2 linked regions of the Homo sapiens genome follow. The protein of the gene in region 1 interacts with the protein of each later gene in a pairwise test. Each region holds a gene or a part of one and is shown on either strand. Other genes may lie near its edges. The genes, in order: UBE2U and KAT6A.

Region 1 (3,828 bases):
TTTGTCATTAATTTTCAACTTTGTTTATGCTGTTTTTTCACATCTGGGATTTAGAGATTTTTATGATTTAAAATAAATTTATATTTAAGATCTATTAATCTTGTCCTTTGAGGCTTTTGCAGTTGTCTTTCATCTTAGATGATCCTTTCCCAAAAGAAAATCAAATAGTCATTTTAAGTTTCTTCTAGTCATTCTACAGTTTTATTTTTCTTATTTAACTCTATTATTTTTTCAAACACTAAATTACTTAACTGTGTTAGGGCATATGCCAAGCTCCTGTACATCTTTCCAACTTAACATAACAGGACAACGCTGGAGGGAGGTTGTGCCCATCCTCAATGTGAAGATTCCATTTCTGGGACTAAGGCATTTACTGTTTGTCACCATTTCCAGTCTGGGGGAAGGGGGAAGAAAAGAAGGAAAGCCAGCTTCCTTTAAAAAAAGACTCAGAAATTGCACACTTATCCTTATGTCCCACAACAAAAACTTAGTCACAAGGCCACATCTTGCTAAAGGAGAGGATAGGAAAAACTGTAGGGGCACCTATGTATTCAGCTAAAACAACATGGTAATGGGTGGGAACCAGGGATGGGTATAGTGCTTCTCAGTACAGAGAGAAGAACTAGGAAAAAGGAAGAGTAAATGCAGATAATTTTTCTGGCTTATCATTTTGATGTTTGTAAGTTTTAAATAATAATTTATTATAAATGCAAATATTAATGTATTATTTTAATACAGTAGACCCACACACTGGTCAGCCCTGTATAGACTTTTTGGACAACCCTGAGAAGTGGAATACAAACTATACATTGAGCAGCATCTTACTTGCCCTACAGGTAAGAATGGATTTCATATAATCCTCTCTTTAATACTTTTAATTACCCTAATTATTCAAACTACAAGGATTAAAATATACAATGCATATTTAAGTGTTTAAAGAATTTGAGAAGTTTATTTAAATCCATACTTCTATATGAAGGCTACAAAGTGGAACTTACTTAAATTATAAAAACTATTATTTAAAGTGAAATTGATAGTTAAGGCCCCTCAAGACCAAAGAATGCATATCTTATAAAAGAATAAAATAATTATTTAGATGGTTTCAATTCTGAAAATATAACCTTAGGTTTTCTTTTGGTTCCTAACTTCACTTCCTGATGTTGAGCAAGCCTTTTAGATCTTTCTTCATTTATGGACCTTGCCTTCCTGAGAGAGGTGGATCGAATGACTACAACTTAAAATGTTCACTTTTGTTTTTTGTTTCTGACAGTGCTAGTTAGCTACTTTCTGTCCCAATAGTGTTCACATCAAACCCAGTGAACAATTTATACCAAGGATTTTCTCCTCTCCTCAGATGCCTGTTTCTCAGATGCCACCTTTACCCACTGGACCCATGGTCCTTAGAAGCATACCTCAGTGTTGTGCTATTTCTTTTCTTTTCTTTTTTTCTTTTTGAGACAGGATCTTGCTCTGTCACCCAGGCTAGAGTGCAACGGCACAATCCTGGCTCACTGCAGCCTCAACCTCCTGGGCTCAAGTGATCCTCCCACCTCAGCCCCTCAAGTAGCTGGGACCACCGGCATGCCCTACCATGGATGGCTAATTTTTTAAATTTTCTGTAGAGACGGGGTCTCACTATGTTGCTCAGGTTGGCCTCAAACTCCTGGGCTCAAGCAATCCTCCCACCTCAGCCTCCCAAAATGCTGGAATTACAGGCAAGAGCCACCACATCCACCCAGTGTTGTGTTATTTCTGGTCCTTAAAAATGCCTCCTTTCTCATCTAATGCTAAAATGAATTATTTCAGTGAACTTGCTTTGACCTCTTAGAGCTAGCTTAGCAATAATCTATCCATGACCTACTTATCACCAATAATATCTGAAGATAAATAATTACATTTTGATTATCTAGAATACTTGGAATATAAAATACTCTGGCATAATTGAGTTTTTAAATATAGAATTATAATATAAATTGCATTTCTTCTATTTCTTGTATTTGAAAATAAATAAAATAATACTTTCCTGGCTAGTCATCTTAGCATACTAAGTAAAATATAATCTTTAGGAAAGATTCAATGTTCAGTTCATTCATTCATTCTACAAATATGTATTGAGGATCTACTTGTGTGAGGTTGTGTTCTAGGAAGGAGACATTTGAGCAAAAAATTTAAGGGAGTGAGTGAGTGTGATATGCAGAAATCTGGGGTTAATCCTTTGGATTCCTTTAAACTGAGACATATTCTGATCTCATCCACCTAAACTAGAGTCTGCCCTAAGAATAGCAAAATGATCCCAAAATGTAATGAGTAAGGGCAAACCAGAATGAACTGGTGAAAATTTTGAATTGCAGAATAATTTGATAAAAGGAAAATGTGGGGCTCTGAGTTAGCTTGCTTGGCTTCACATCCTGGTTCTGCCACTTGATACCTTTGTATCTATCATTGGACAAATTTTTCCACTTCTCAATGTCTCAATTTCTTCATCAGTAAAATGGGGCTGTTGTTACCTCATGTAACCTGTGAGGAGGAAATTAATTAATGTGTGTAAAGAATTCGGAACTGTGCCTGGTCCAAGAAAATAACTCAATAGTTAATACAGGTCGAGTATTTCTTATCTGAAATGCTTAGGAATTGGAAATTTTTCCAATTTTTGAATATTTGCATTACATATACTTACCATTTGAGCATCCCAAATTTGAAAATTTGAAATCTGAAATACTCCAGTGAGCATTTCCTTTGCACATCATGTCGGTCCTCAAAAAGTTTTGAATTCTGGGGTATTTAGGATTTCAGATTTTCAGATTTAGGATGCTGAACCTCTAGTTAGTTAACATTATGATTGTTCTTACTATTAAAGAGTAATGCAAAGTGACACCAAAGTGTTGCCAAATATATCATGGAAAGCCAGTAGATAACACAATTTTGTCTTTTTATTTTTCGAAAACATTAATAAAACAAATATGCCCACATTACAAAAGATTTTTAAGATAATGGGAAGGAAAAGAAAATCACTGACAATTATAAAGAAAACCCTTAACTTTACTGTTACTAGGAAAGAGCTTTCTGCTCTTTTCTCCTGTTTTTCAGTTTAAAATCTTTCAGTGGATCCCACCTTCTCCACAGGTGTAAGCTCTAGTTCTGTTGCATATCTAATCCTCACACCTAGACTCTCCCTAACACACCAGGCAATCCTGCTCATACTTATATCTTCATGCTTTTCTGCACTCACATTGCTTGGGTCAATTCAGATAAAAAAAACATTCATAGAGTTCTAAAGTTACCTTAGAAATGGTCAGTCTCCAGTTCCCCTCTGCCTGGCAACTCATTTTCTCCTCTTCTCTTCCTCAGTCTGTCCAGCAAGCAGTTGTTCATGTTGTTGTAAGAGTTGGAACAAATGAATCGTCCTCTAGGATACCTTTTCTGATTTATTTTCCTAGGGAGAATTAATAGCTTTGGTTTTGGGGGAGCTTCCTTTGCTACACACCCAACAGTACCCTGAGCAGATTTCTGTTAGAACACTAATACTATAAAGCACACACTGCTTACTTATCTGTCTTCCCCTATTGGACTGCAAGCTCCCCAAAATCAGGAAACAGGTCTAATTCATCCTTGATTTCCTGGAGCATACCAAAGACAATGCTGACATTTGGTAGATATTAAATAAAATGAATGAATGAATGAACCTGAATTTTTACATTATTGCTATTATGGTATGTATATTGCCATGTGCTTAGCAACAAGGATACATTCTGAGAAATGAGTTGTTACACATTTCATCGTTGTTTGAAAATCATGGAGCGTACTTACACAAACCAAGATGGTATAGCT
Region 2 (3,828 bases), on another chromosome or scaffold:
AGTACCGAATGCTGTATTAGAGAGGTGCATGCATCATGCACTAGGGGGCATTAAAGTCACATAGTACCTTTAGATTGTACTTTTTTCTTCCAGTTTGAGAATGTTGTCAACAGTGAGTCCTTGACTTTTTTCTTCTTGTGTTAAGTTAATAACAGATGGCCCATATGTGCAGTTGACTTGAGAACTGTCACCAATTGGTCTTTTCAGCCATACTTATAAAGAGAGCAAATGAGCCCAACAGCAGTGTCATCTTCAAATGCAAAGGATAATGATCTTCATAAGTCCCAAATACTCTCTTCACTAGTTTTTTGCCAACTTGAGGAAGTTCCATCATTTAGTAGATAATTATCATACGTTTTCATATTTACCCAGATGATTATCATCTGGGTAAATAGAGTTTGTGCTTTAAAAGGACAGTGTTTTAAAGTTTGTGCTTTAACTTTAAAAGGGCACCCAGAATGTGATGGGAGTTAGTACTGCTGACATCAGTTAAGGTAGCTACTCAAGAGGTTTTTTTGAACGTTGATGCATTAAACCTATACTAAAAGTGTCAAATTTATACTATTTCAAAATGAAATTTATATTCCTTATATCATTTTTCTGTCTGCCTTTCTGTGTATTAAAATGTAATCTTTAATGAAGTTTAAATTTAGTTATATAATATTTTTAGGAAGCTTTAAGACAATTCAGGATTTCCACTATAAGGCAGATTTAATACATAAATATTATTTATTGAGTAGCATTCTTCTAAGAGTCAGTTTAATGCTATATTCTTCGTTATATATTAAGTTCTTCAAATTGAAATAAAGACCTGAAATTTTTTCTAGTTCATGTATTAATCTGGGGACAGTTAACATGTGAGCTCTTTTTTTATATGTAGACAATCAGGATGGCTGGGATGGCAAACAAGAAAATGAGGAGCGACTTTTTGGGAGCCAGGAAATCATGACTGAGAAAGATATGGAATTATTTCGTGATATCCAAGAACAAGCACTGCAGGTAAAGTTGGATATTCAGGTTAGACAATCAAGCAACTTGTTCATGGCTGAGAAACAGCAGATTAATTACATTGTGGGTTAAGCAGTAACAGCAGTTTGCCTAATCTCAGAATAGTTGTGGTTTGTGTGTATATGTAGTTCTGCTGTTTATAATATTCCTTTCAAACCCATGATAACTGCTTTGGTTTTGCAGATAAGCACATGGCTTTGACTATCAATATTAAATAAGCTTGGTTTATTTTTTGTCTTACTGTATGAAGAAGAATTTGGGATTTGACCAAAAACAAACAAAAAACAAGCTTCTCATGAGTGATAAAACACCTATATTTATTAATTCAAGAAGTATTTCATGCCTGTAATCCTAGCACTTTGCCAAGGTGGGTGGATTGCTTGAGTCTGGGAGTTTGAGACCAGCTGGGGCAAAATGGCAAAACCCCATCTCAAAAAAAAAATAGAAAAATTAGCCAGGTATGTTGGTGCACACCTGTAGTCACAGCTATTTAGGAGGCTGAGGCAGGAGAATTGCTTGAGCTGGGGAAATGGAGGTTGCAGTGACCTGAGATCATGCCACTGTACTCCAGCCTGGGTGACAGAGTGAGACCCTGTCTTCCAAAAAAAAAAAAATTGCAATTCTTTGTGACACATGGCAAGATCGTAAATATATAGACAGAGTCTATGTGCCACATGCTGGAGATGCCAGTGAATGACTGAATTCTTTCCCTGAACTATAGGAGAGATTTGTGAATAAGTAATGTCATTAATATGAAAAGTTCAATTATAGAATACTTGATGTTTTGGGAGAATAGGGAAGCCAGCTTCTACTTCTGCCTGGGGAGGTCAGAGGAGGATTCATTGAGGGGCCTTAAAGGATATGTAGGAGTTGTACATATCCCTTAAAGGGATATGTAGGGAGTTGGTTCTTATATAATCAGAAGGAACAGAAGTGAAGGTGGAATAGACTTGAAGATAGGGGAAAACATGCTTAATTGTGGGAATTAAAATGGCTCAGGATAAAGAATATAGGGTGTGGAGAATGGCAGGAGGTGAGGTTGGAAAAGTGCAGGGGCTAGATCATAAAGGCTCTTCCAGATTATGTTCATTTATTTTTTGTCTTTTCCTTCTTTGCCACCAACAAATGTACCATGTAAGCCAAGTTCTCTTTTATCTTGAAAAGAAGAATTTCTAGGCTGGGCACGGTGGCTCACCCCTGTAATCCCAGCACATTGGGAGGCCGAGGCGGGTGGATCACTTGAGGTCAGGAATTCGAGACCAGCCTGGCCAGCATGGTGAAACCCCGTCTCTACTAAAAATACAAAAATTAGCCGGTGGCACACGCCTGTGGTCCCAGCTACTCGGGAGGCTGAGGCAGAAGAATCACTTGAATCCGGGAGGTGGAGGTTGCAGTGAGCCGAGATCGTGCCACACCACTCCAGCCTGGGCAACAGAGTGAGACTCCATCTCAAAAAAAAAAAAAAATTCTAAGGCTGATGCCGAGGGTTCTAGGGAAAACTCTTCATATTAAGAGACCCAGTGGTGGTGAATAGACTGTTGATGTCGGTCATTATGTGAGTACTTTTGGAAAAATAAAACAGCAGTACAAATACTCAGCACGCATTTACTCAGCATTCTGCTGTATTATGATTTAACAAAATATTGGCTTTGATTCAGGTGGATCTGGGTTCAAGTCTTGATCTGTCATTTACTAACTTCTCCTTTGGGCAGGTTGCCCTCAAAGCTTGTTTCCTTTCATGCTAGTGAGTTATTATAGGTACTCTAGTAGAAATCTACATGGACTTCAGTGGGAACTGAAAGGAGGCAGTAGTTATGTTCTTCCTGACTGAAAGAATTTTTTTTTCTCCTCCCGAGTAAGTTGCAGACATAATGTGTTAATATCCCTTTACTCCTAATTTTTTGTGTGTATTTCCTAAAAACAGAAATGTTCTCATACATGACCATGGTCCAATCATCAAATCAGGAATTTAACACAAATTAAGTACTATTATCTAATTTAGTTGTCACGTCTCTCTAGTCTCCTTCCAATTGGGAACAGTTCCTCAGTCTTTATCTTTCATGACCTTGACAGTTTTGAAGTGCACAGGTCATTTATAGAATGTCATCACTTTGAGCTTGTTTTATTTTTCATGATTAGAAAATTCCACAGGTGTGCTGTGTCCTCCTCAGTGTGTCACATCAGAAGGCATGTAATATCCAAGTTCTCATCACAAGTGCTGCTAACAGTGACCACCTGGTTTAGGTGGTATCCATGTTTCTTCTCTAACATTGCTTTCTACCTATAATTAAGTATCTTGGGGGGACATACTTTGAGACAGAAATGCAGATAACCTGTTTTTCATCAAACTTTTATCTACCACATTTAGCATCCAGAGATGATTTTTGCCTGAATCATTTACTTTGTTGGTGGCCAAACATTATTTTCTAATTCTATCATTTCTTTGCCATTTATTAATTGGCATTCTATTGTAAGGAGAAGCTTTTTCTTCTTCCTATTTGTTTATTCATTTTGTTTAAACTCATAGATTATTTTATGGTTATAATCCATTGCTATTAGTATTTATTTTGATGCTTAAATTGTTCCAAATTTAGGCAGAGGGGAACTCCTTTCTAGAAGCTCCTCTGTCCTTTTAACACATCATCATCATTTTTATTTACTTCTGGCCACAGCAAGATGTTCTAGGCTCTTACTGTTGTAGCCATAGATTCTGGCTTTTAGTGGTGAACAAGAGTAAATGGTAGCTCTATCCTGTACTTGCTTAGGCCCACAGAGATGTCATCTTGATTTTTTTTTTCTCTGTCATACTTCACATTCAGT

The links.
Region 2: the proteins of UBE2U (region 1) and KAT6A interact in a two-hybrid assay, tested with the Homo sapiens proteins (one large-scale study listed by BioGRID and IntAct).

What each region holds. Positions count from the first base shown.
Region 1 is NC_000001.11:64,210,004-64,213,831, forward strand, and holds part of UBE2U (ubiquitin-conjugating enzyme E2 U), read left to right. Parts: intron 1-738; coding exon 739-836; intron 837-3,828. UniProt on the Homo sapiens protein: Catalyzes the covalent attachment of ubiquitin to other proteins.
Region 2 is NC_000008.11:41,971,875-41,975,702, reverse strand, and holds part of KAT6A (histone acetyltransferase KAT6A), read left to right. Parts: intron 1-880; coding exon 881-999; intron 1,000-3,828. UniProt on the Homo sapiens protein: Histone acetyltransferase that acetylates lysine residues in histone H3 and histone H4 (in vitro). Component of the MOZ/MORF complex which has a histone H3 acetyltransferase activity. May act as a transcriptional coactivator for RUNX1 and RUNX2.